7 linked regions of the Homo sapiens genome follow. The protein of the gene in region 5 interacts with the protein of the main gene of each other region in a pairwise test. Each region holds a gene or a part of one and is shown on either strand. Other genes may lie near its edges.

The links.
Region 1: the proteins of PKN1 (region 5) and RAB3IP interact in binary tests that used the Homo sapiens proteins (3 or more experiments, as listed by UniProt).
Region 2: the proteins of PKN1 (region 5) and CCNJL interact in binary tests that used the Homo sapiens proteins (3 or more experiments, as listed by UniProt).
Region 3: the proteins of PKN1 (region 5) and INTS11 interact in binary tests that used the Homo sapiens proteins (3 or more experiments, as listed by UniProt).
Region 4: the proteins of PKN1 (region 5) and BUD23 interact in a two-hybrid assay, tested with the Homo sapiens proteins (one large-scale study listed by BioGRID and IntAct).
Region 6: the proteins of PKN1 (region 5) and SYCE3 interact in binary tests that used the Homo sapiens proteins (3 or more experiments, as listed by UniProt).
Region 7: the proteins of PKN1 (region 5) and KIAA1328 interact in binary tests that used the Homo sapiens proteins (3 or more experiments, as listed by UniProt).

Annotation. Positions count from the first base shown.
Region 1 is NC_000012.12:69,745,327-69,748,859, forward strand, and holds part of RAB3IP (rab-3A-interacting protein isoform alpha 1), read left to right. Parts: intron 1-3,533. UniProt on the Homo sapiens protein: Guanine nucleotide exchange factor (GEF) which may activate RAB8A and RAB8B. Promotes the exchange of GDP to GTP, converting inactive GDP-bound Rab proteins into their active GTP-bound form.
Region 2 is NC_000005.10:160,248,566-160,251,089, forward strand, and holds the end of CCNJL (cyclin-J-like protein), read right to left. Parts: 3' UTR 518-2,524; downstream 1-517.
Region 3 is NC_000001.11:1,318,131-1,321,663, forward strand, and holds part of INTS11 (integrator complex subunit 11), read right to left. Parts: intron 2,964-3,533; coding exon 2,866-2,963; intron 2,400-2,865; coding exon 2,326-2,399; intron 1,395-2,325; coding exon 1,166-1,394; intron 1-1,165.
Region 4 is NC_000007.14:73,690,075-73,693,607, reverse strand, and holds part of BUD23 (18S rRNA (guanine-N(7))-methyltransferase), read right to left. Parts: intron 2,693-3,533; coding exon 2,596-2,692; intron 1,013-2,595; coding exon 962-1,012; intron 280-961; coding exon 194-279; intron 1-193.
Region 5 is NC_000019.10:14,464,287-14,467,819, reverse strand, and holds part of PKN1 (serine/threonine-protein kinase N1), read right to left. Parts: intron 256-3,533; coding exon 179-255; intron 103-178; coding exon 27-102; intron 1-26. UniProt on the Homo sapiens protein: PKC-related serine/threonine-protein kinase involved in various processes such as regulation of the intermediate filaments of the actin cytoskeleton, cell migration, tumor cell invasion and transcription regulation.
Region 6 is NC_000022.11:50,552,892-50,556,424, reverse strand, and holds part of SYCE3 (synaptonemal complex central element protein 3), read left to right. Parts: intron 1-19; coding exon 20-128; intron 129-3,533. UniProt on the Homo sapiens protein: Major component of the transverse central element of synaptonemal complexes (SCS), formed between homologous chromosomes during meiotic prophase.
Region 7 is NC_000018.10:37,154,120-37,157,652, reverse strand, and holds part of KIAA1328 (protein hinderin), read right to left. Parts: intron 1-3,533. UniProt on the Homo sapiens protein: Competes with SMC1 for binding to SMC3. May affect the availability of SMC3 to engage in the formation of multimeric protein complexes.

The sequences.
Region 1 (3,533 bases), on a different chromosome or scaffold from region 5:
ACACTAATTCCTTGGTATAAAATATCTACACTTTTTAAAAAAATACACAGGAATATGGGTACTATAGTAAATTCAAGTTTCTGTTTATTTTGATTTATGTGCTGTTTTTTTTTTTCCAAGTCCTGTAAGGAGCTGAATAAGTATTAAATTCTGGCATAGTAACAAAACAGAGGAGGAAATGATAACAAAAATAATATAGGGGAAAATAATAGAACACAAAGCAATAGCAAATGCTCATTTCAATAGCAGTGCTTTAGAGAAACTTCAGTTTTGTCTTTGTGAAAGTAAGAGAAGGGTTCAGAGATTAAACATTATTATTCTGTTTGGATTGTTCACTTCTTTTTTTTTAAACTTTAAGTTCTGGGATACCATGTGCAGAACATGCAGGTTTGTTACATAGGTATACACGTGCCATGGTGGTTTACTGCACCCAGGATTGTTCACTTCTTAGAGATCCTTTGCTGTGCTTTAACCTTTATTCCCATCTCCCTACTCCCTATCCATTTCAGCTTCTAAGTGTATCTCAGATGTAGTGGAGTTAGGTGTTAGAGTCAGACACACCAGAGTTTGAATACTAGCTCTGTTACTTTTTGTGTATTTGACAAAATTAATCTCTCTCAGCCTCTTTTTTTTATATATCTGTAAAGTAGGGATAAGAACCATTTCAAATGAATGCTCTGAAGATTAACTGGAATAATTGTGTGTTTGTGAATAAATATAAATGAAGCTGTTCTGAATGTTTTCCATACGTATATATGCCTCCATCCCCTCATTCCCAGTGCATGACCTTGGCATTAGATCAGACAGTAATCGTTTAACCAGCCTCTAGTCTCCAGTGAAGTTCTCATTGCCTTGGGAGTCATTTTTAAATGACTACATTACAATACATCTATACTTTCTAAAATGTAGATCTCACCATCTCTTCAGGATAAACTTTAAGCAACATTTTCTCTTTTAAAGAAGGCTTTTAATGGTCTGTCACAGTCTGCCTCTCCAGCCTGCTTTTCTGTTACTGTCTCCTTTGTTAGTTTTGTTAGTGCCAGACCCTTATTCCCTGACTGTCCTATCCTATTCCCCTTGCCCATCTACTGGACTTGTATTCAGCACTGAAAATCTGACTTATATTTTACTTCTCTTTGAGACATTCTCCTCTTCCCTCTTCCCTCCCCACAACCCTCAGAATAATCATGCCGTGGCTCGTAGAGGCTGTGTGCCATCTCTTTGGTCCATTTGTATCTGTATTCTTAGCACTTAGTATCAGGATTTGCCCGGAGGTGTTGAAGCTGGCAATCATCCTTCCATTCCAACAAGAATAAATATAATTTATCACATATATGTATGAAATAAATGTATTTAATATGTATAATAAATGTTGAAGGTTTTTAAAGAAGTGATGGAATTTGTAACTAATTCATGGAATTTATAACAGTTCAATTCATTATATGCTATTGAAGTAGCAGTCTCATTTTTAATCTCAGAAACTGTTTCTTTCATAATTCATGTTAAATTAAGAAGTCATTTGGGAATTTAAAAAGCATCTGGACTTTCCTCCCTGCCCCCCTTCCACAACTGTCTGTGAATAAATTGAAAGAGGAAAATAGTGCTTACATAATCTTAAACCTTTTCTTTTGACATGTCTTGGAATATTTAATTTCTATTATTGTGATAATACAAGTAAAACAAAATTATACTACAGGATTTATAGATGTTTACTTTTTTTGAGGAAAATCACTCAAAACAATAAGCTTTTAAACCCAAACTCAACAATCATTGCTTTTTGTTCTTAGTGATAGTGCTTGTGCTGATACAATATGATCAAAATATTTGGCCAGTATTAGGAAATGTCCTAGAGATGATTATAATAGTAAGAGCCAGTCTTAATTGGTAAGTGCCAGATATGGTGCTAAGCTCTTTAATTCTCATGACTACCTTAGGAGATAGGTACAGTTTTCTCCCCTTGCCCTTTCGTGTGTGTGTGTGTGTGTGTGTGTGTGTGTGTGTGTGTGAGAGAGAGAGAGAGAGAGGATCTTTCTCTGTTGCTCAGGCTGGAGTGCAGTGGCACAATCACAGTTCGCTATAGCCTCAACCTTCCTGGCTCAGGAGTAGCTGGGACCACAGGCGTATGCCACCACACTCTGCTAATTTTTAAATTTTTTGTAGAGATGGGGTCTCGCTATGTTGCTTTTGGTTGTTGCTTAAACATCTTGGGCACAAGCAACCGTCCTGTCTTGGCCTTCCAAAGTTCTGAGATTACAAGAACCACTGTGCCTGACCTGTCATCTCCATTTTTAGATGAGAAATTGAGACTTAGATCTTCAGGTCACTTTATTAGTAACTGGTGAAGCCAAGATTTGAGACTGATTCCAGAGTACAAGCTATTTCATGAGATAGTGAATACTGGTTAAGTTACCCTGTTGGCTTTTCTTCTAGTAGACAAGTACATTCCTTTATCTACCAGGATTATTTGATCCAATTCTACACTGAAATAGATGAAGATATTTGGGCTCAGATAAGTTACCTGCCCAGGTTCATAGATAGATCTCAGAGCTTGATCAGGAGCCTTAGCTTTCTTCTTCAGGTACTGATGCTTCTACTCTGCTGTGTTGCCATATTACCTCCTTTGTTGGAAATGATTTACTTTCTGAGTGTAGTGCTTTGAGGAATTTTAGTAAACATAGAATTCAAATTATTTAATTTTCACATATATTAAATTGATATGAAAAAAGATAAAAATCACAGCTTTAGTTTTTTTTTTTTTTTCTAAAATTAAAATTCTATGTTTCCCATTTGTCAAGGTAAGTCCAAATTAGGGGAATGTGCTTTTTGTGGAAAAATGGATTTTATTTTTTCTTTTGGACTACTGATATAAATCAAGTTGCTAGATTTCATTTAAAATATGTATATGCATTTTATTCATGTTCTTCAGATGTTTCATTGAAAATATTTTCCCATTAATTCTGATTTCTTGAGTTGTCCTAGGGATGGCTTTTGTTTTCAAGAAACATTTTAAAAATTCACTTTAATTAGAAAAAGTAAATTTCATAAGTTATTAGGATCTTTCTAGGCATTTATTAAATGAGTTAATATGTATGAAATTCTTAGCACCACTATCTGACAACATAGTTAACCTTCAGTAAAGATTGGCTGTTGTTTTTGCTGTGATAGTACTGATTTCGAGAAAGAAAAATTAACAGGAAATGCATATTAGGGATCAGAAGCAAATTGTTTTGATCAACTTTTTCTTGTGGTCTGCAGTCTGCTTTATTACCTGGAGCTCAGTAATAAGGCCAGCCAAGTTGTGTTGGTGATTCACCCATAAGAATTTAATGTGATCATCTTTTTTACATATTGGTCATGATCCTTGACAAGTTTAATTTACTAATTGGGATAATCAGTTGAAATTAGTTCTTTTTGAATCACTCATTGCTTAATGCGAAAGATACTACTGCTTAAAAATAGTAGTTTATTTTACTCTTATAAAGACGTATGTGAAATAAATCTTAAAGCTTCTATGTATTTAAAGGGCAAAAGAT
Region 2 (2,524 bases), on a different chromosome or scaffold from region 5:
GGTCTGCCTCTTCGGTGGGTTTGATGATGGCTGGATGGAGGACAGGCGCCCTCTGCTCCCTGCACTACCTCCATCTTTTTGCCCTAGGGCTTTTTATAGAGTGACAATAGCCCCGCCCATAGGAGCTCACAGTCCAGAATCGTCTTAATTCACACACACCCACAGTGCACACTTGTATATTTAAAAGATAGGGAAGAGGCTGGGCGGGTGGCTTATGCCTGTAATCCCAGCACTTTGGGAGGCCGAGGCGGGTGGATCACTTGAGGCCAGGAGTTTGAGACCAGCCTGGCCAACATGGTGAAACCCTGTCTCTGCTAAAAATACAAAAATTGGCCGGGCATGGTGGCGCGCACCAGTACTCCCAGCTACCTGAGAAGTTGAGGCAGGAGAATTGCCTGAACCTGGGAAGCAGAGGTTGCAGTGAGCCGAGATCGGACCACTGTACTCCAGCCTGGGCGACAGAGTGAGACCCTGTCTCAAAATTAAAAAGAAAAAGGAAGAAATAAAAGATCTGGAATCAGTCTTTAGCAACTTTAATACTTCTTGATTTTTTGCCTAGTGTATTTCATGAGGAGGTCAGCTCATTTGCTCCCATTTGAACCATGCTGCCTCTGAAACTTAATTACATCCAGAAAGGACACTTGCATGCTAGTTTATCTATGGTCAGTTGTGGAATAGGTCTGTTTCTATATGCACATGTAACCCAAATGTCAAATATAAATTGGGTTAGGTGGGAAAAATAATTTTAAAAGGTGGAAAAAGTTCTATTATGTTGACATGCTTAAATATTGGTATATTGAGTATTCTTTCATCAGCATCTCATATTTACTGGCAAATACAGGTAATTTCTGTGTACTTTGAGATAATTCTGTTAAATTCATATAGACGTCAGAAAATACTTTTCAAAACAAGCTGGACCAGGCGTAGTGGCTTATACCTGTAATCTCAGCACTTTGGGAGGCCGAGGCAGTCAGATTGCTTGAGCTCAGGAGTCTGAGACCAGCCTGGACAACATGGTGAAACCTCATCTCTACAAAAAATACCAAAATTAGCTGGGTATGGTGACAGGTGCCTGTAGTCCCAGCTACTCAGGAGGCTGAGGTGGGAGGATCACTTGAGCCCAGAAGGTTGAAGCTGCAGTGAGCCGTGACTGTGCCACTGCACTCTAGCCTGGGCCACAGAGTGAGACCCTGTTTCAAAAAATAAATAAATAAATAAATAAATAAATAAATAAATAAATAAAATAAAAATTTAAAAAATCAAACTAAACTGGGGAGTTATAAAAATACAACTGAAATATAAAAAACAAACAAAGAAATCATATGCCTGAATGACCAAGAAGCTGGCTAAAGTGCAGATTCCAGGTCCCCACCCCTCCTAGAGAAGGCTCCAGGTCATTCTGCAGCTTGCTCAGGCTTGAAAACCTCTGAATTTAACCTGATGCCAGCCCTGGGAGGAACTTTAAGACTATCTTTGTGCTTTTTAAAGCTTTCATAGCTGTCCTCCAGCATGGGAATTAACACAATCTTACATGGGAGTGCCCAAGGGTGGAAGAAATACAAGTGGATCCCTCTGGCTGAAGGCCACAGAGGTCACAGCCTCTGTGGCACAGTCTCCCCCCGCCCCAAGAGCTTAGAACCATCCACCAACTTGACCATCTCCATAGTAACAGATGGAGAAATGGAAGCCCAAAGAGGGAGGGATTTGTCCAAAGTGAGGTGGGTGCTCTTGGTCAACCCAAGACTTGCCTTGTCTCTGAATCCCCAAAACTTAGAGCTTCCTGCCTCACCTAGCCTTGCACACAGCGGGTGGTGAGCACTGCCCTCAGCCCCGCCCTTGGCGGTGTCAAACACACTCCTGGGTCTGGGCTGCAGCCTCAGGCCCTGAGCTCATCTTCCCATTCCTCCCCTAATTGTCTAATCAAAGGCATCTGCACTTAGCAAATGTCTCAGCCCCACAGTGACACCGGCTCTCTGGGGTGGTTCTCCTGCTGGAAGCTGGGTAGGTAGAGGGCAAGACAGAAGTCTTGAGTGAGACTCCCTTCAAGGAGGAGTACGAATCTGACATTTTTCATAACAGCTGATGCTATATCTCATCAATTCTACATATACATATTTTGACATGTAACGCTTCTGAAATCAGAATGCAACATATAATCAATGGTATCTTGCAAACTGCCTCATGATTTAGTTTTCTAAAAAGTCTTATTAGTGCATAAAATAATAGTGCATCTTACAAAAAGCTGATCTTATGCTTGAAGAAATATAATAATTATCTCCTTTTTTGGAGGTACTGGCCTTGATGTACATTATGTTATTTAATCCTCTTAAGAACCCTATGAGGCAAGGTGTTATCACTCCCATTTTAACAGGTGACAAGATGGAGGCTCAGAGAGAGGTTGGGTCAACTGCCTTCCAACAGCTGGTAAGTGGTGTGATCATTAAGTTTATGTGGCAGCTTGGCTAGGCTACAGTGCCTGTTGTGTGGCTAGGTACTAGTCTAGATGTTGCTGTCAAGGTATTTT
Region 3 (3,533 bases), on a different chromosome or scaffold from region 5:
AAGTGCTGGGATTACAGGCGTGAGCCACCGCGCCTGGCCAAGGCAAATAAAAATTGACAGAATTCAGCACCAGCAGACCCACACTCATATTCTTCAGGCAGAAGGCAAATTATCCCAAGTAAAAAGTAGAAAAAATGCAGGAAGCCCAACAAAAAGGATAAATATATAAATAAAACTAAGCAAATGTTGGTGTTACCAGGCATTAGAAATGATGTCTTTCTGGGTTTAAAATGTACTGAGGGAGTTGCCAGGTGTGGTGACTCATGCCTGTAATCCGAGCACTTTGAGAGGCTGAGGTGGGAGGATCCCTGGAGCCCAGCCCAGGAGTTCGAGAGCCTTAGCAACACATACCCATCTCTACAAAAAATACCAAAATAAATTAGCTGGGCGTATGGGCACATGCTTGTAGTCCCAGCTACTTGGGAGGCCGAGGTGGGAGATCACCTCAACCCGGGAGGCCGAGGCTGCAGTGAGCCAAGATCACACTCCAGCCTGGGTAACAAAGTGAGACACTGTCAAAAAAAAAAAAAAATTAAAGTTTCACAACAAAAAAGATAAACATACTTCATTTTGACAAGTTCAATCAGAAAATTAAATGTTCCAAAATACATAGGTACCTAATATAGTTTCAAGAAATATAAAAGCAATACCCAGAGATTCGAGTGAGACACAGACAAACCCATAATCTTTGTCAGAAATGGAATTTCACCTGTCACTCGCTGATTTAACCTTCACTTCTTCCCTGACCCACACCCAGAACCAGGCACCCTCCAGAGCTGGCCCATCTCCCCTCCAGCCCCTGCCTCCCTGCCCGGCAACACCCCGGGAGCTCCAGCGAGTCTCTGGCCGCTCCAAGCGCTCTGAGGGCACCAGCCTGTCCCACTCTGGCCATTTCAATGCCGCTCGGACAGAGCCTGGTGGGTTCATAAGCCGGTGCATACCCCCACCCTGCACGTGCTCTCCCGGGTCGGCGCCCAGTCTGGTCTGGGACCCGCATCCTCGCGCTGACGCCTCCTGGTGTCCCCACGGTGCTGGACGCAAGAGTGAGGTGGGGTGGGCTCACCCTGAGGCCCCAGCCTTCCAGAAACTGTGTAGAACGGGCGGAGGGCATGGTTGGTGTGGGGGTGGGCAGTGACTGTGCCAGCTGTGGCCCTGGGAACCTGACCTGGACCGTCTGGTGGAGGTGGACAGCCACCACCTTCTTCATGCAGTCTTTGATCATCTGGGAGGTGAAGAAGTTGGCCTCGCCCTTCTTGTCTACGGCGATCTTGCGGTAGTCCTCCAGCAAGATGGGGCAGATGGCCTGGGTGGGGTGAGTCATGTAGATGGGCCCGTCGTAGCCCACCATCTCGCTGAAGTAGGGGAGTGCCCCGCAGTGGTCCAGGTGGAAGTGGCTAGGGGGACGCAGCACAGGTCAGCCTGGGCCCACCCTGCCCCAGCCTTCACCCCCGCTCTGGGCTTGTGGGTCACTGGCCCCTTCATTCGCCTGCTGTGCGCCAGGCCTCATCCCGAGTACCGAAGAGTCAGTAATGAGCAAACACAAAACTGTCTCCCTGGAACTTTCAGTCTCAAAGTCTAGCAAGGCAATAAGCAAACGGGAAATTGAACACGTCGGTGACGGCGACATGCTCGCGAGACAATGCAAAGCTGCTGAGGGAACCGCGCATAGGGGAGCCGCTGGCTTTTCAGGCAGTCAGGACAGGCTGAGTGGAGCTGCAGGTGAAGGTGGCACAGACCTGAGGGCAAGGGCAGCGCCTGGCAAGCCCCAGGAAGGCACTGGGGACCCCACCGTGTCTGAGAAGAAACCACAACCACGAGGGGCTCAGGGGCAGCTGAGGACACTGCCTCCGGAGAGGAGAAGGGGCTTCTCCAGGCTTCACGGGCCTGGCTGCTGGGGAGGACAGGGCAGGGAAGGGCAGGGGGCCAGCAGGAGTGCTGTGGCCGTCCAGACGAGGCCACCCAGACCAGCGGGTCATGAGCTGCTGAACCCTAAAGGCTGGGGTCAGGGCAGACTCGGGACTCTGGAATCGCCAACAAGACAGTGGGGTTTAAAGATCCTGAGACAGTGAAGGCATCAGAGAGGGTGAAGCCTGGAGGGCCGGGTTCAGAAAGTAGGGTTCAGAGGGCAGGGCCGGAAGAACAGACAGAGACCAGGCCATGTGTGTGACCAGTAAGGCAGGCAGGGAGCAGATCCTGGGGCCTAGAAGCCCCCTGAGGATCAAGGATGGCACAGGCCCCTTGCCAAACGCTGCCGAGACCAAGCAAGGTGGCCCAAGCCCCACAGGCACAGACATGGGACCCTCAAGGCCCCCAACAGGAACCCACCTAATGATCACACAGTCCAGGAAGTCTGTTAGGCGGCCGTTCTGGGTGATGTAGGAGAAGTCAGGGAAGCGTCGCTAGGAAGGATGTGGGGGTTTCAGGTTGCACAGTGGTCTCCAGGCAGCATCTGGGGCCACCCATGCCCCAGGGAGGGGCCCCCAGGAAGGGGGGTTCTATGTGCAGACTCAGGCTGGGCACTCCCATCCCGCAGGTGGCACCAGGACCCCTGGCTGCTCACAGCATCCGGAGGGGCCGAGGTTACCCCCAACCTCACTGACAGATGTGAGCTGGAAGCTGAGCCCAGGGTCTCACGGAGTCCAGCCTACAGGACCCCGGGGCTGGGGCTCAGCGCCAGCACAGGGGGACCCCACCATGCAGGGGCTCACCTCGGCCAGGCCCACCCATCCCTGCTCCCCACAGGGTGCAGCCATCCAAGCACAACCACTGCTGCCCACCACCCCACTGTCCCGGCTCTGAGGCCCAGGGTCCAGCTGTGGATGGCCGGCTCTCCCAGCCTCTGGGCCTCCTGCCCAAGGGACTCACGTCGTCATTGAAGCCCATGTGCATTCCACAGTCCAGCATGACATTCTTGCCCGCAATGGAGACCAGGATGCAGCTTCGGCCCACGTCCTGGCCGGCCCCTACTCGAGGGAGGGCAGATGAGTCACTGCTGCGCCCCCCGCCCCCTGTGCTGCCTCCCCAAGCTCTGCAGGACCCCAGTGCACTGAGGAAACCGGACCAAGTCTGCTGTGTGGACAGACACATGGGCCAAGAAGCAGGGCCACCCCTACTCACAGGAAGGGGGACACAGGGGACCATGCCCCACACCATCATGTCCAGGGTGGAGGCTGGCAGCCCACACGCCCTCCCCCGCCAGCTTCCCCTGGCCTCTTAAGGTGGCCACGGCCTGCTGGCTAAGTAGTGGGCACTGTGCTGTGGCCCTCAGCCTCCAACAGAGACAACGGCTGGTCTGTGGGGCCAACACCTCGGTCAGAGTCACTCCTGGGCTGTGGCTGGACCCCCAGCAGAGCTGCAAACCAATGAGGCCACCTTCTCCAGGATCTTTCCCCAGGCAGGCAAGGCAGTAAGTGACTAAGTGCTGGCACTGGGTGTTCTCTGGTGGTGCGGCTGTGGAGGGGCGCCACACAGCCTCAGCCATGCCATAGCGAACACGGTGCCAGTGGTCCAGCAGTGGCCAGCGTGGCAACACG
Region 4 (3,533 bases), on a different chromosome or scaffold from region 5:
CAAAGTGAGGGTTGGGTGGAGAAAGCCCCACAGGGAGACAAGCCCTCAGCTCCCCCACCCGCACCCCCTCCGCCTGCCTGGACCCTGGTGACCCACACCCCAGCACTCCTCTGCACCACTGAGTGGCCTGAAAGGGCTATGCCACTACCCTCCCTCCTGCAGCCCAGGCAGCACACCGGCCCCCAGCGCTCACTTCTTTGCTTTGGCACTGTTAGGGTAGTCTACCACCATGCCACCGGAGAAGCCTGCCTTTGTGGCCTGGGTTGTGATCAGCTCCAACTGAGGAAAGAAAGGCAGCGGGTCAGGCAGCGGAGGTTGAGAGGAGCAGACAGCTTCACCTCCCTCCCCTCCTTCAGAAGCCAGTCTGCTCCAGGACAAATCCTGCCTGGGAGAACTTAAGGTCGCTGTAAGCCACGTAGAGAAAAGTACAGGCTAGAATCTGGCATGGCCCACACCTCCCTCAGGAGAATTACAGAACAAAGCAACTCCCCTCATTCTCACTTTCCAGTGCAGGGACCCAGCTCCCCACTCAAGTTTAGGGAGATGGCCACCAATTGGAATCCAGAGTCATTCATGTTATTAGTCAGGAACAGCTCTTCACTTATCTTTCAACATCTACATCCTACTCCGCCATTCCTTAATTTATACATCACACAACGGAGAACTGTCGGTGCCCTCTCACCCTTCCTAAATGGCATTTACTTATTTGGTTATGGAAATCAGTCGCATCACCTTATCTGTAATACCATGTCATCTGCCAAGAGAAGGCATCCCACCCCACCTCCGCAGATGCCACCCCCTTAGGATATCAGGTCATCAAATGTGCCATCAGGGGCCACACTAGGGTGCATGTTTCCTCCTTTTCCCGCCAATCTGCATAAGATTCTTTGTCGCTTCCCCAGGACAGCTTACCTGTTGAGTCCCCCAACTCCCCGGCACACCCAGTAGCCGAGGGACTCACCTGCTCTGAGTTCTCAGGGTACAGCTGCAGGACAGCTCGGGATCCCCGGACCTGAAAGAAACAGGAACATCACTGTCTTACAAATGACTGCATGAGCTTAGGGCCTGGACACCCCTCTCTTCCTTCATTCACCAAGTATTTCCTGAATTTCCATTATGTGTGAGGCATTGTTAGGGCTGGGGATAGTATGAACAAAAGAGATCACCCTGAACTTTGGAGCTCACATTTTAGTAAAGGAGGCAACTAATTCACAGTAGCAAATTTTTTCTTTGTTACAAAAAGAGGAATTAGACAAAGTGACAGAGTTTCCTTTCAGTTCAGTTTACTTTTGGTTCCAAAAAGGCCTGTTTCAAATGGATACTTGAGCAGAGATTTGAATGGAGTGAGGAGCTGGCTATTTAAACATATAAGGGAGGAGCCTTCCAGCAGGGAGAAGAGGAAACACAAAGGACCTCAGAACTAAAATATTAACCCAGTGTGCCAGGAGGAGAACTCATGTGACACACAAGACCAGCGGCCAGATAGGCAGGCGCAGTCCACCCCAGGAAAGGCCAGCGGCCACATCAGCAGGGGCAGTTCACCCCAGGAAAGACCAGCGGCCACATCAGCAGGGGCAGTTCACCCCAAGAAAGACCAGTGGCCAGATCGGCAGGTGCAGTCCACCCCAGGAAAACTAGGGGTGGGCTAGACCAGGCTAAGGAGGCAAAAACCACTCAGATCCTTCAAAACGGACTCATTTTTAAGCTGGGCACAGTGGCTTACGCCTATAATCCCATCACTTTGGGAGCCTGATGCCAGACAATTGCTTGAAGCCAGGAGTTTAACACCAGCCTGGGCAACATAGGTAGACCCCATCTCTTAAAAAAAAAAAAGTAAAAAATTAGCCTGGCATGGTGGTGTGTGCCTGTAGTCCAAACTACTTGAGAAGCTGAAGCAGGAGGATCACTTGAGCCCAGGAGTTCGAGGGCGCAGTGAGCTACGATCACACCATTGCACTCCATCCCAGGCAACAAAGCAAAAGTCTGTCTCAAAAAACAAAATTTAAAAAGAACTCATTTTTAGGACTTAAAATCTCAGACTATCAGCTAATCCTAGTGAACAACTGAAATTAACATCATTAATTTGAAGACAAAGCTAATAAAGGCTCTCTTTGCAGTAAATAACTATCCTGTTCCTCATCCGAAGAAAAGGATCAGCACTAGGAGGAGGGATAAGTGAGGAGTCAGAAGGATGTGGGCACTTTGGAAGGTACCCCTCTGGATGGTCCGGACACGACATCTCTGTCCTCACTCTGCTCAGTCCATGCCCCCAAACCAACTTCTGATTAAAACTCAGCGCAATAGACATAGGAATACCAATCAACAGAAGTAGGCCCTATTACAAGTTAATAAATTGGTCTCCGATTTTGGTATCAGTGACTTCTGGGTTTGATTAGAGTATATCAGTCCACTGAGCTTGAACTTCCATTTAGGCTGAGGACCTGGACAGAAGTAACCACAGTAAGGTCCTGCCACCCCATGCGGTCCCATATGAGTAGCTTACCCATCATGGGACACCTCAATTTCCTCACTCTACCTGCAGTGCTAGGGAGGGACAGGCAGCTAACCCAGATGGGGAGAAGATCTTATACTCACGAGAACAGAAAAAAGAGAAGCAAAAAAGCAGTACAGGCGCTTGGCAGGGTTTTCAGACTTCTTGTTAGCATTACAGAGCCACTGCACAGCAGAAATGCTAAAAAGGAAGGGACCTAGTCAGGCAACGGAGCAATCCACGTTGCTCCCCCAACCACTTCAAGCCTCTTGACATCATCCGTCCTGGCTCTCCAAGAGAAACCCCTCCTCCCACAGCTTCCCTTCTTAGAAAGTGCAGGTTGAGGCCACGTACAGTGGTTCAACGCCCTGTAATCCCAGCACTTTCTGAGGCCAAGACAGAATTGCCTGAGGCCAGGACTTCAAACCAGCCTGGACAACATAGCAAGACCCCATCTTTACTTAAAGTATTTTTAAATTTAAAAATTTAAAGACAAAAAAAGTGCAGGTCCACTGCAGGTCATGACTCTACAACACTGGAAAAATAGGACATACAGAAGGACAGCATTTATGTCCCATAGTCCCAAGAAACCTTTCCTCCACCTTGTTTCCATCTGCATCTTGAGTTGAAAAGTCCTCCGTGTCAAGGCTGTCTGCCCACACACCCCTCCTTGTTCCCTTCCTCCAATCCAAGGAAACAGGCTTTAGACTACTCACATACACACAGCCATCCCATCACCCTTCCTCCTAAATCACTCCCTTCCACTCTACCTGTTAAGTGTCTTTACAACCCCCAGATTTAAAACCTCAAGCAGCCAGGTGCATTGGCTCATACCCGTAATCCCAGCATTTTGGGAGGCTGAGATGGGTGGATCACTTGAGGTCAGGAGTTCGAGACCAGCCTGACCAACACGGTGAAACCCCGTCTCTACTAAAAATACAAAAATTAGCTGGGCTTGGTGGCATGTGCCTTGAATACCAGCTGCTCAGGTGGCTGAGGCAGAAGAATCACTTGAACCTGGGAGGCAGAGGTTGCAGTAAGC
Region 5 (3,533 bases):
TCCCAATTCCCTGCCCTCCACCTCACCTTCCCAAAATGACCCCGGCCCAGCACCGCCAGGAACTTGAAATCTTCGAGGGTCAGAGGTGACTTCCTCAGAGGGCTGTGGAGAGAGGCCACTGGTGAGAACAAGGACAGCGGGCAGGGGTGGTGGACAGGGGGCCAGGGAGTGGTGTCACCTGCACAGGGCGGGGCCTGGGGTCTCCTGGGTCTCCGAAGGCAGCTCGGGAGCAGTGGATTCCTGGATGGGGGAGCTCTGTGGCGGAGAGAGGAGGCCAGAGTAAGGGGAGTCAGAGATGCCCTCATAACCACAGCAGCCTCCGAGGCCCTGCAAGATCTGCCCCCGACCTCTCTGTCCTCACCTCTCCTCCCACGCAGCCCCTCACTCACTCTCCTCCAGCCACACGCCTGCACCACCATGGCTGGCTAATTTTTGTATTTTTAGTAGAGACGGGGTTTCACCATGTTGGCCAGGCTGGTCTGGAACTCCTGATCTCAGGTGATCCACCCGCCTCGGCCTCCCAAAGTGCCAGGATTACAGGCGTGAGCCACCATGCCCAACCTGAATTTTTTTTTTTAGAGACAGGGTCTTGCTCTGTCTTCCAGGATGGAGTGCAGGGGCGCAGTCATAGCTCAGTGCAGCCTCCAACTCTACCTCCGCCTCCTGAGTAGCTGGGACTAAAGGCATGCACCACCACGTCCAGCTCATTTTTTTTTTTTTTGAGATGGAGTTTCACTCTTGTTGCCCAGGCTGGAGTACAATGGTGTGATCTTCGCTCACTGCAACCTCCGCCTCCCGGATTCAAGTGATTCTCCTACCTCAGCCTCCCAAACAGCTGGGATTACAGGCATGCACCACTACGCCCGGCTAATTTTTTATATTTTTAGTAGAGATGGGGTTTCTCCATGTTGGTCAGGGTGGTCTTCAACTCCCGACCTGAGGTGATCCACCTGCCTCAGCCTCCCAAAGTGCTGGGATTACAGGCGTCAGCCACCGCGCCCGGCCTAATTTTTGTAGAGATGGGGTCTTGTTCTGTTCCTCAGGCTGGTCTCAAACTTCTGGCCTCAAGCGATCTTCTTCGTTCAGCTTCCTGAGTAGCTGGGACTACAAGTGCAAGCCATCATGCCTGGCTTGACAATGTCCATTTTTTATTATTATTTTTTTTATTTTTGAGACTGAGTCTCACTCTGTCGCCCAGGCTGGGGTACAGTGGTGTGATCTCAGCTCACTGCAACCTCCGCCTCCCAGATTCCAGCAATTCTCCTGCCTCAGCCTCCCAAGTAGCTGGGATTACAGGCGTGCGCCACCACGCCCGGCTAATTTTTGTATTTTTAGTAGAGATGGGATTTCACCATGTTAGCCAGGATAGTCTTGATCTCTTGACTCCAAAGTGCTGGGATTACAGGCGTGAGCCACCATGCCCAACCCATTACTTCTACTTTCTAAAAAATTAGATCTATAAAAAATTAGCCAGGTGTGGTGGTGCACGCCTGTAGTCCCAGTTACTTGGGAGGCTGAAGTGAGAGGATCACCTGAGCTCAGGAGGTCGAGGCTGCAGCGAGCCATGACTGCGCCACTGCACTCCACCCTGGATGGCAGAGCGAGACCCCGTTTCAAAAAAAAAAGATAAAAGATAAAATGCATTCAGGCTGGGTGCAGTAGCTCATACCTGTATCTCAGCAATTTGGGAGGCTGCAGAGGGGAGAACACTTGAGGTCAGGAGTTCAAGACCAGCCTGGCCAACATGGTGAAACCCCATCTCTACTAAAACCAAAAATTAGTTGGGCATGATGGCACATGCCTGTAGTCCCAGCTATTAGGGAGGCTGAGGCATGGGCATCTTTGAACCTGAGAGGCGGAGATTGGAGTGAGCTGAGATCACGCCACTGCATTCCAACGCCCATTCTGGGCGACAGAGTGAGACTCTGTCTCAAAATAAATAAATAAATAAAATGCATTCAGTGAGGTGGGCAAGAGGAACAGGTTACATATGCATCCACCCAGGAAACCATCAGCCAGCCTAGGAGTTGGCAAATGCTGGCTGGTGGGCCAGCCTGTTTTTATAGTTTGTAAGAGCTAAGAATGGCTTTCACTATTTTTTTTTTTTTTAAGAGATGCAGTGGCCGGGCATGGTGACTCACACCTATAATCCCAGCACTTTGGGAGGCTGAGGTGGGCAGATCATCTGAGGTCAGGAGTTCAAGACCAGCCTGGCCAACGAGGTGAAACCCCGTCTCTATTAAAAATACAAAAATTAGCTGGGTGTGGTGGGCACACACCTGTAGTCCCAGCTACTCGGGTGGTTGAGGCAGGAGAATCCCTTGAACCTGGGAGGCAGAGGTTGCAGTGAGCCTAGATCACGCCACTGCACTCCAGCCTGGGCAACAGAGTGAGACTCCATCTCAAAAAAAAAAAAAAAAGAGATGGAGTTTTGCCATGTTGTTCAGGCCAGACTCCAACTCCTGGGCTCAAGTCATCCTCCTGCCTCGGCCTCCCAAGTAGCTGGGACCACAGGTAAACTGATTTTTACATTTTTAAATCGTTGGGGGAATAAAAAAAAACAAAAAAAGGAATAATATTTCATTGCCCATGAAAGTTCTACAATGTTCAAACTTCCGCGTGTACTACCAATAAGGTTTTACTGGAATAGAGACACGCTTACAGTGTACATATATCGTCTGTGGCTGCTTTCAAACTACAAAGCAGACAGGGACTGTCTAGCCCACAAAGCCAAAAATATTGACTCTCTGGCCCTTTCTGGAAAACGCGTGCTGACCTCTGACCGAGATCAAGATAAGGAACATTTCCATCACCCGGCAGGTCCCCTTGTGGCTCCCAGCTTGCGGTAACCTCTGCCTAGAGAACAGCACTCTCTCGATCATTCTATCATTGACATGAGTTTTAAATATGCTCGTTTTGCAAAGTGGTACACTGAGGCACAGAGGTGAAGCGCAGAGCCAAGAGGTGGCACGGCAGGGGTGGGAACCCAGGGGGTCCAGCCGCTGAGCTCACAGTTTTATTTATTTTTATTTTTTGAGATGGAGTCGCTCTGTCGCCCAGGCTGGAGCGCAATTGGTATGATCTTGGCTTACTGCAACCTCCGCCTCTCAGGTTCAACTGATCCTCCTGCCCCAGTTGCCCGGGTAGCTGGGATTACAGGTGCCCACCACCGTACCCGGCTAATTCTTGTATTTTTATTAGAGACGGGGTTTCATTGTGTTGGCCAGGCTGGTCTTGAACTCCTGGCCTCAAGTGATCCACCCGCCTCAGCCTCCCAAAGTGCTGGGATTCCAGGTGTGAGCCACTGTGCCCAGCCTGTTTTGTTTTTTGAGATAGTATTTCGCTATGTTGCCCAGGCTGGAGTGCAGTGGCAGGATCATGGCTCACAGTGGCTCACTGTGTTGCCCAGGCTGGTCTCAAACTCCTGGGCTCCAGCAATCCTCCCATGTCAGCCTCCCAGAAGTGCTGAGATTATAGGCATGAGCAGTTTTTTAACCAGGATGGGGATCTGGGCACACGTTTTAACCAGCATA
Region 6 (3,533 bases), on a different chromosome or scaffold from region 5:
CTTTCTGTGCATTGCCTAGATGGATGATGCTGACCCTGAGGAAAGAAACTATGACAACATGCTGAAAATGCTGTCAGATCTGAATAAGGACTTGGAAAAGCTATTAGAAGAGATGGAGAAAATCTCAGGTAGGATGTGTGAACCCAAAAGTATCTGAGACAGGTCTCAATCAATTTAGAAAGTTTATTTTGCCAAGGTTAAAGATGCACCTGTGACACAGCCTCAGGAGGTCCTCAGGACATATGTTCAAGGTTGGCAGGGTACAGCTTGCTTTTATACATTTTAGGGAGAGAGAATACATCAGTCAGTACCTGTAAGATGTACACTGGTTCGGCCGGGCGCGGTGGCTCACTCCTGTAATCCCAGCACTTTGGGAGGCCGAGACGGGTGGATCACGAGGTCAGGAGATCGAGACCATCCTGGCTAACACAGTAAAACCTCGTCTCTACTAAAAATACAAAAAATTAGCTGGGTGTGGTGGCAGGCACCTGTAGTCCCAGCTACTCGGGAGGCTGAGGCAGGAGAATGGCATGAACCCGGGAGGTGGAGCTTGCAGTGAGCCGAGATGGTGCCACTGCACTCCAGCCTGGGCGACAGAGTGAGACTCTGTCTCAAAAAAAAAAAAAAAAAAGATGTACATTGGTTCGATCTGGAAAGGTGGGACAACTCAAAGGGGGATGATTCCAGGTTATAGATAGATTTAAATTTTTTCTGATTGGCAATTGGTTGAAAGAGTTATGGTCTAAAGACCTGGAATCAATAGAAAGGAATGTCTGGGTTATGACGGTAAGGGGTTGTGGAGACCAGAGTTTTATCATGCAGATGAAGCCTCCGGGTAGCAGGCTTCAGAGGGAATAGATTGTAAAAAGCTTTCTTATCAAACTTAAGGTCTGTGTTCATGTTAATGCTAGTCACCTTTTCCTGAATTCCAAAAGAGAGGCAGGTATAACGAGGCATACCCAATTTCTCCTTCTCCTCACGGCTTGAACCAACTTTGGCCAAGCAATACACCCACCTTGGCCTCCCAAAGTGTTGGGATTACAGGTATGAGCCAGCGTGCCTGGCCAAATAGCTTTTATTCACTAGAGCAGACTTTAGAAAATTTCTCCTTAGAAATGTTTGCAATTTTTTGCCTATGTACTTTTGAACTATGAATAGCTGAGACACGTATCAGTTAATTTAGAGAGTTTATTTTGCCAAGTTTGGGGACACTTATCTGTGACACAGCCTCAGGGGGTCCTAATGACATGTGCCCAAGGTGGTCAGAGCACAGCTTGGTTTTATTTATTTATTTATTTATTTTAAGACAGAGTCTCGCTCTGTCGCCCAGGCTGGAGTACAGTGGCGTGATCTCGGCTCACTGCAAGCTCCGCCTCCCGGGTTCATGCCATTCTCCTGCCTCAGCCTCCCGAGTAGCTGGGACTACAGGCGCCCGCCACCACGCCTGGCTAATTTTTTGTATTTTTAGTAGAGACGGGGTTTCACTGTGTTAGCCAGGATGGTCTTGATCTCCTGACCTCGTGATCCGCCCGTCTCGGCCTCCCAAAGTGCTGGGATTACAGGCGTAAACCACCGCGCCTGGCCTTGTATTTTTAATAGAGACAGGGTTTCACCATGTTGGCCAGGATAGTCTTGATCTCCTGACCTTGTGATCTGCCCGCCTCAGCCTCCCAAAGTCCTGGGATTACAGGTGTGAGCCACCGCGCCTGGCCTTTTTTTTTTTTTTTTTTTGAGACGGAGTCTTGCTCTGTCGTCCAGGCTTGAATGCAATGATGTGATCTCAGCTCACTGCAACCTCCGCCTCTCGGGTTCAAGTGATTCCCCTGCCTCAGCCTCCTGGGTAGGTGGGATTACAGGCGCCTGCCACCATGCCCAGCTAATTTTTGTATTTTTAGTAGAGACGAAGTTTCACCATTTTGGCCAGGCTGGTCTCAAACTCCTAACCTCAGGTGATCCACCTGCCTTGGCCTCCTGAAGTGCTGGGATTACACGCGTGAGCCACCACGCCCAGCCAGCAAACAGTTTTATGTAGTGAAAAATCTATCAATATTTTCCTTTCTGATTTATTGCCATTATTTTGACACCTAGAAAGTCTTTCCTCAATCTGAGATCAGTGAAATATTTAGTTGTATTTTCTTCTACTTTTCTCCGTATTCCTTTTTAACATTTAATCCTAACCCATCTGGCATGCCAAATGACCTACGCTGCGTATTGCTTTTTTTTTTTTTTTGAGACAGAGTCGCGCTCTGTTGCCCAGGCTGGAGTGCAGTGGCACAATCTCGGCTCACTGCAAGCTCTGCCTCCCGGGTTCACGCCATTCTCCTGCCTCAGCCTCCCGAGTAGCTGGGACTACAGGTGCCCGCCACCATGCATGGCTAATTTTTTTTGTATTTTTAGTAGAGATGGAGTTTCCCCGTGTTAGCCAGGATGGTCTCAATCTCTTGACCTCATAATCTGCCTGCCTTGGCCTCCCGAAGTGCTGGGATTACAGGAATGAGCCACCGCACCCAGCCGCATATTGCATTTTTATATAAATCTGCTACAGGCTGGGCACGGTGGCTCACACCTGTAAACCCAGCACTTTGGGAAGCCGAGGCAGGAGGATCACAAGGTCAGGAGTTTGAGACCAGCCTGGGCAATATGGTGAAACTCCATCTCTAATAAAAATACAAAAATTAGCTGGGCGTGTTGGTGGATGCCTGGAATCCCAGCTACTCAGGAGGCTGAGGCAGGAGAATCACTTGAACCCAGGAGACGGAACTTGCAGTGAGCCGAGATCATACCATTGCACTGCAGCCTGGGTGACGGAGCGAGACTCTCTCTTCTGTGATAGTCCCTGGGCATAGAGGGAGGGTGTTTGTATCGTTTTAGCAGCAGGGCATTTGCAGTGTAACAGATCCGGGCCCAGTGCGATGCCAAATGAGGGAGATTCATATCTTTGGTCATCTGCAGAATACCATGATTTTAGTTTCCTTGGAAGCAAAATGAGGGGAGATAAGTTTGACAATTATAAGAGTAATTTGTGCATTAGAACAGAAAAAGGAACCTATTCCATTAGGGCACCAACGAAAAATATGAGGAAAAGTTACAATCTGGTCCTCTCTAGAGGATTATTGTAGCCAAGAAACAATGATTTAATTTGCACTCAAAAAAACGTTATGGCTGGGCGCAGTGGCCTGTAATCCCAGCACTTTGGGATTTTATTTATTTATTTATTTATTTTGAGACAGGGTCATACTCTGTCACCCAAACTGGAGTGCAGTAGTGCAATCTTGGCTCACTGCAACCTCCACCTCCCAGGCTCAAGGGATCCTTTTTTTCATCTCAGCCTCCTGAGTAGTTGCAACTACAGGTGCACACCACCATGCCCAGCTAAATTTTGTATTTTCTGTAAAGACAGGGTTTCAACATGTTGCCCAGTCTGATCTCAAACTTCTGAGCTCAAGTGATCCACCCACCTCAGCCTCCCAAAGTGCTGGGATTATAGGTACCAGCCACCTTGCCCGGCCAGCCACCTTCTTGTATCCTCACAT
Region 7 (3,533 bases), on a different chromosome or scaffold from region 5:
TTTTTAGTAGAGATGGGGTTTCACTATGTTGGCCAGGCTGGTCTTGAACTCCTGACCTCGTGATCTGCCCACTCGGCCTCCCAAAGTGCTGGGATTACAGGTGTGAGCCACCACACTTGGCTAGGATGAGGTAATTCTTTACACTGATGAGAAGAAACTTCATGACATGCTATTAAAATAAAAGCAATTTGCAATTATAGAGTATATAATGTGATCTCATTTTTATAAAAATAAAAATATACAAAAATATTTTTAAAGTTCTGGATGGATAAATGTCAAACTAGAAGGGAGTAGAAGAAATAGAGGGAAGAGTTTTATATTTTAATTTATATAACTCTGAATGTTTTAATTTCTTCCAATAGGCATGCATTTTATAATTTAAAAACAAACAAAAAACTCTCACCATGTCCCTTCCATTACCATCTCCTCTCTCCTTGTCTGCTGAACGTCTAGAAAACAATAATTTATTCTAACAGACATACCGACTAGAACTTGTTTTTAAAGAACAAATCAAAAGGCCTTTCTTCTTTGAACAGTCTTGCTTGTTACTAGATCACCCTACAGAAATTCAAGAAATTCAAGAAAACATTTTTTCTTGAAATGTTTTCTCCCTTGGTCTTCATAACACATTATCCTGACTGGTTTTCTGGTTTTAGGAGACTTCTTCCTTCCCCTTAGATGCAGACATTGCAAAAGTCTGTCCCTGTCCTCTTCCCTCTTAGTACTTTCTTGGTGATCCTTGCCACACCTCTATATCTGCAAGTACGATTTCTAAACAGATTCTTCTAGTTCACAGTGCTTGCCAAAACTGCTGACCTGATCAAGTATCTGATGAAAAGCTGTAAAGCGATGTCTATTCCTGCCTCCCAAACCAACTCTTGCTAAAGCAATCCAGTATCTTTATCTTGAAACTACTTCCTCCTTCTGTTTCCATTCTCACTTAATGATATCACCATCCTCCCAGTCACTCATAAGAAATCTCAGTTGTCTCAACTTCTGCTCTCCTTATTCCTTTTTAATAAATTTCCTAATCAATCATTCACTTATATATTCATCAGATATTGACTGAAGAACACACTTTATGGGCCTGATATGTACTGTGAGACTGGGCTGGGCAAAATGGAAAACAAACATTTACAGAGGACTTATTTTATGCTAGGTGCTGGGTATACAAACATGAGAAAGCCCTCGTTCCCATTCTTTTTTTTTTTTTTTTTTTTTTTTTTGAGGCGGAGTTTCTCTCTTGTCACCTAGGCTGGAGTGCAATGGCACAATCTCGGCTCACCACAACCTCTGCCTCCCGGGTTCAAGCGGTTCTCCTGCCTCAGCCTCCCGAGTAGCTGGGATTACAGGCATGCAATCCCATGCCTGTAATTTTGTTACATGCCCGGCTAACTTTGTATTTTTTAGTAGAGATGGGGTTTCTCCATGTTGGTGAGGCTGGTCTCGAACTCCCGACCTCAGGTGATCTGCCCGCCTTGGCCTCCCAAAGTCCTGGGATTACAGGTGTGAGCCACCGAGCCCGGCCCAGCCCTGGTTCCTATTCTTAAAGAGATTTTAGTGGGGGAGACAGACGTGGAAACAGAATTTTTAATACCATATGCCAAATGCAGTAATTCAGGAATATACTGGATGTTATGAGAGTGCAAGGGCAAGGCACCTAACTTTATTTGCATAACAGAAGAGAGATTCCTGAAATACTCAAACTTAACCTTGAAAGATAAGGAAAAATGTAAGAATGTTCTAGGTAAAATAAAAAAGTATTAGCAAATATACCAACAAATGAAACTTCAGTTCATATTTTGGGAAAGTTAAATAGCTAGGTATTGTTACAGCATTAAACTTTGGGTGTGTGGTAGGGAGGAACGGAGATGAAGCAGGTAAGACAGGGCAGGTCAGATCATGAAAGGTTGCGTTTTCCATGCTGAGGGGCTTGAACTCTATCTTGTGGCCAAGGTGGAGTCACTGAAAGGCTCTCAGGAGAAAAATGATATGATCCAACCAGAATTTATGAAAAATTACTCTGGCACCATTTAGAGAATGGGCTTCAAGAAACTGGATGAGTTGGAAGGCTGCTGAAACAGCTCTGGTGAGAGATGAAGGTTTGCAATAGAGAAGCGGTAGTAGGAACGGAAAGACATAGTTTAAGAAATATTTAGGATTTAAAAAGGGTAGAACTTGATGTAAGAGAGAGGGAGAGAAAAGTCAAGAATGACTGCCAGAATTTTGGGTTGATAAGCAATACAGAGGAGGATTGGGGAAGGGTGGGAAAAATTAACTGCAGCTTGAGATGCTTATGGAACATCTGAGAAGATATTTCAAGAAAGTAATTTGATCAGTAACTCCATGGCTTTTTGCTATTGGCTAAGTGAGTTTAGAGGTGGTAGAGTTGAGGGAGGCAGAGTTGAGAAAGAATATGCTTCAATTTCAATTTCCTTGGTGTAGGAGGAGATACAGTCATTCTTGTGAGTGAGTAAAGCAGGTATTGAGAAGAGAGGTGAAGGTTTGGAGTATGTATTGAGGGAATTCGAAATAGAAATGAAAAGAAAAAGATTTTCCTGAAATGTTGAGGCCCTAACAGAAATAGAAATCATCCATTTGTAGCAGGGCTCAAGTGCAGAGATTAAAAAGCAGAGAAAGCAGTGTGAGAGCTCAATCTAGGGTTAGGATTTTTACTGGGACAATGCAGCAGACTGGGGGTCAAGGGAAATAAATATATTAATGTAGTATAGGTCAACCATTCGGTCCAGGAAGAAAGTGAGGCAACAGGGACTGAAAAGACTGGCAGAAAAATGAGGGGAAATAAATAATTTAGATATCCCTTTAAGGTAAAGCGAAAATAAAACAGCAACAACACCAGAAATATAAAAACCCTTGGTATGGTGTATGTGATAAACATGAGAATATAAGCTGTAAAGAAAGAGGCTGGGATGGCAGAGTCAATGATTTTTCTGATGAAACCATGGTGGGTGATAGCAAGCTCTGGGTGTCACCATGGATGATGCTGGAGTGAATTGAGGAACGCAGAAATTCTTTAGCTATGGCAATGGATACATCAACCATATGGATATTGGGATCTCACAGAATGATGGTAGGAGTTATGGGGGAGAAAGTGACTTTAAGTGGGACGTCAAGGTCCTAGTGAGATAATGATGGAAAACAAAGGATGGAAAAGGATGGACTGCTGCAGTAAAACTAGACATATATTTAGATTCACATAAATAAAGAGATATGCAAGAAAAATGCTGGCACTCCTCTCTCTGTTGTTTATCAAATGTGACAGAAAGAATGGCCTCTAATAGAAGTGGTGCTCTCAGAAAAGATGCTGATTTTAGGCAGTGATTCACAGCTTGGCAATACATTTAAATAATCTGGGGAATTTTTAATAAGAGCGATGGACTGAGTCTCACCCACTTGTCGAAACTGAATTAATCAGTCTAGGGTGGGACCTGGATATTATTTGCTTCCCTCTCTCACTCTCCTCTCCTTTTAAAAAAGTTCTATAGGTGATTCTAATGTTCAGATAGGATTGA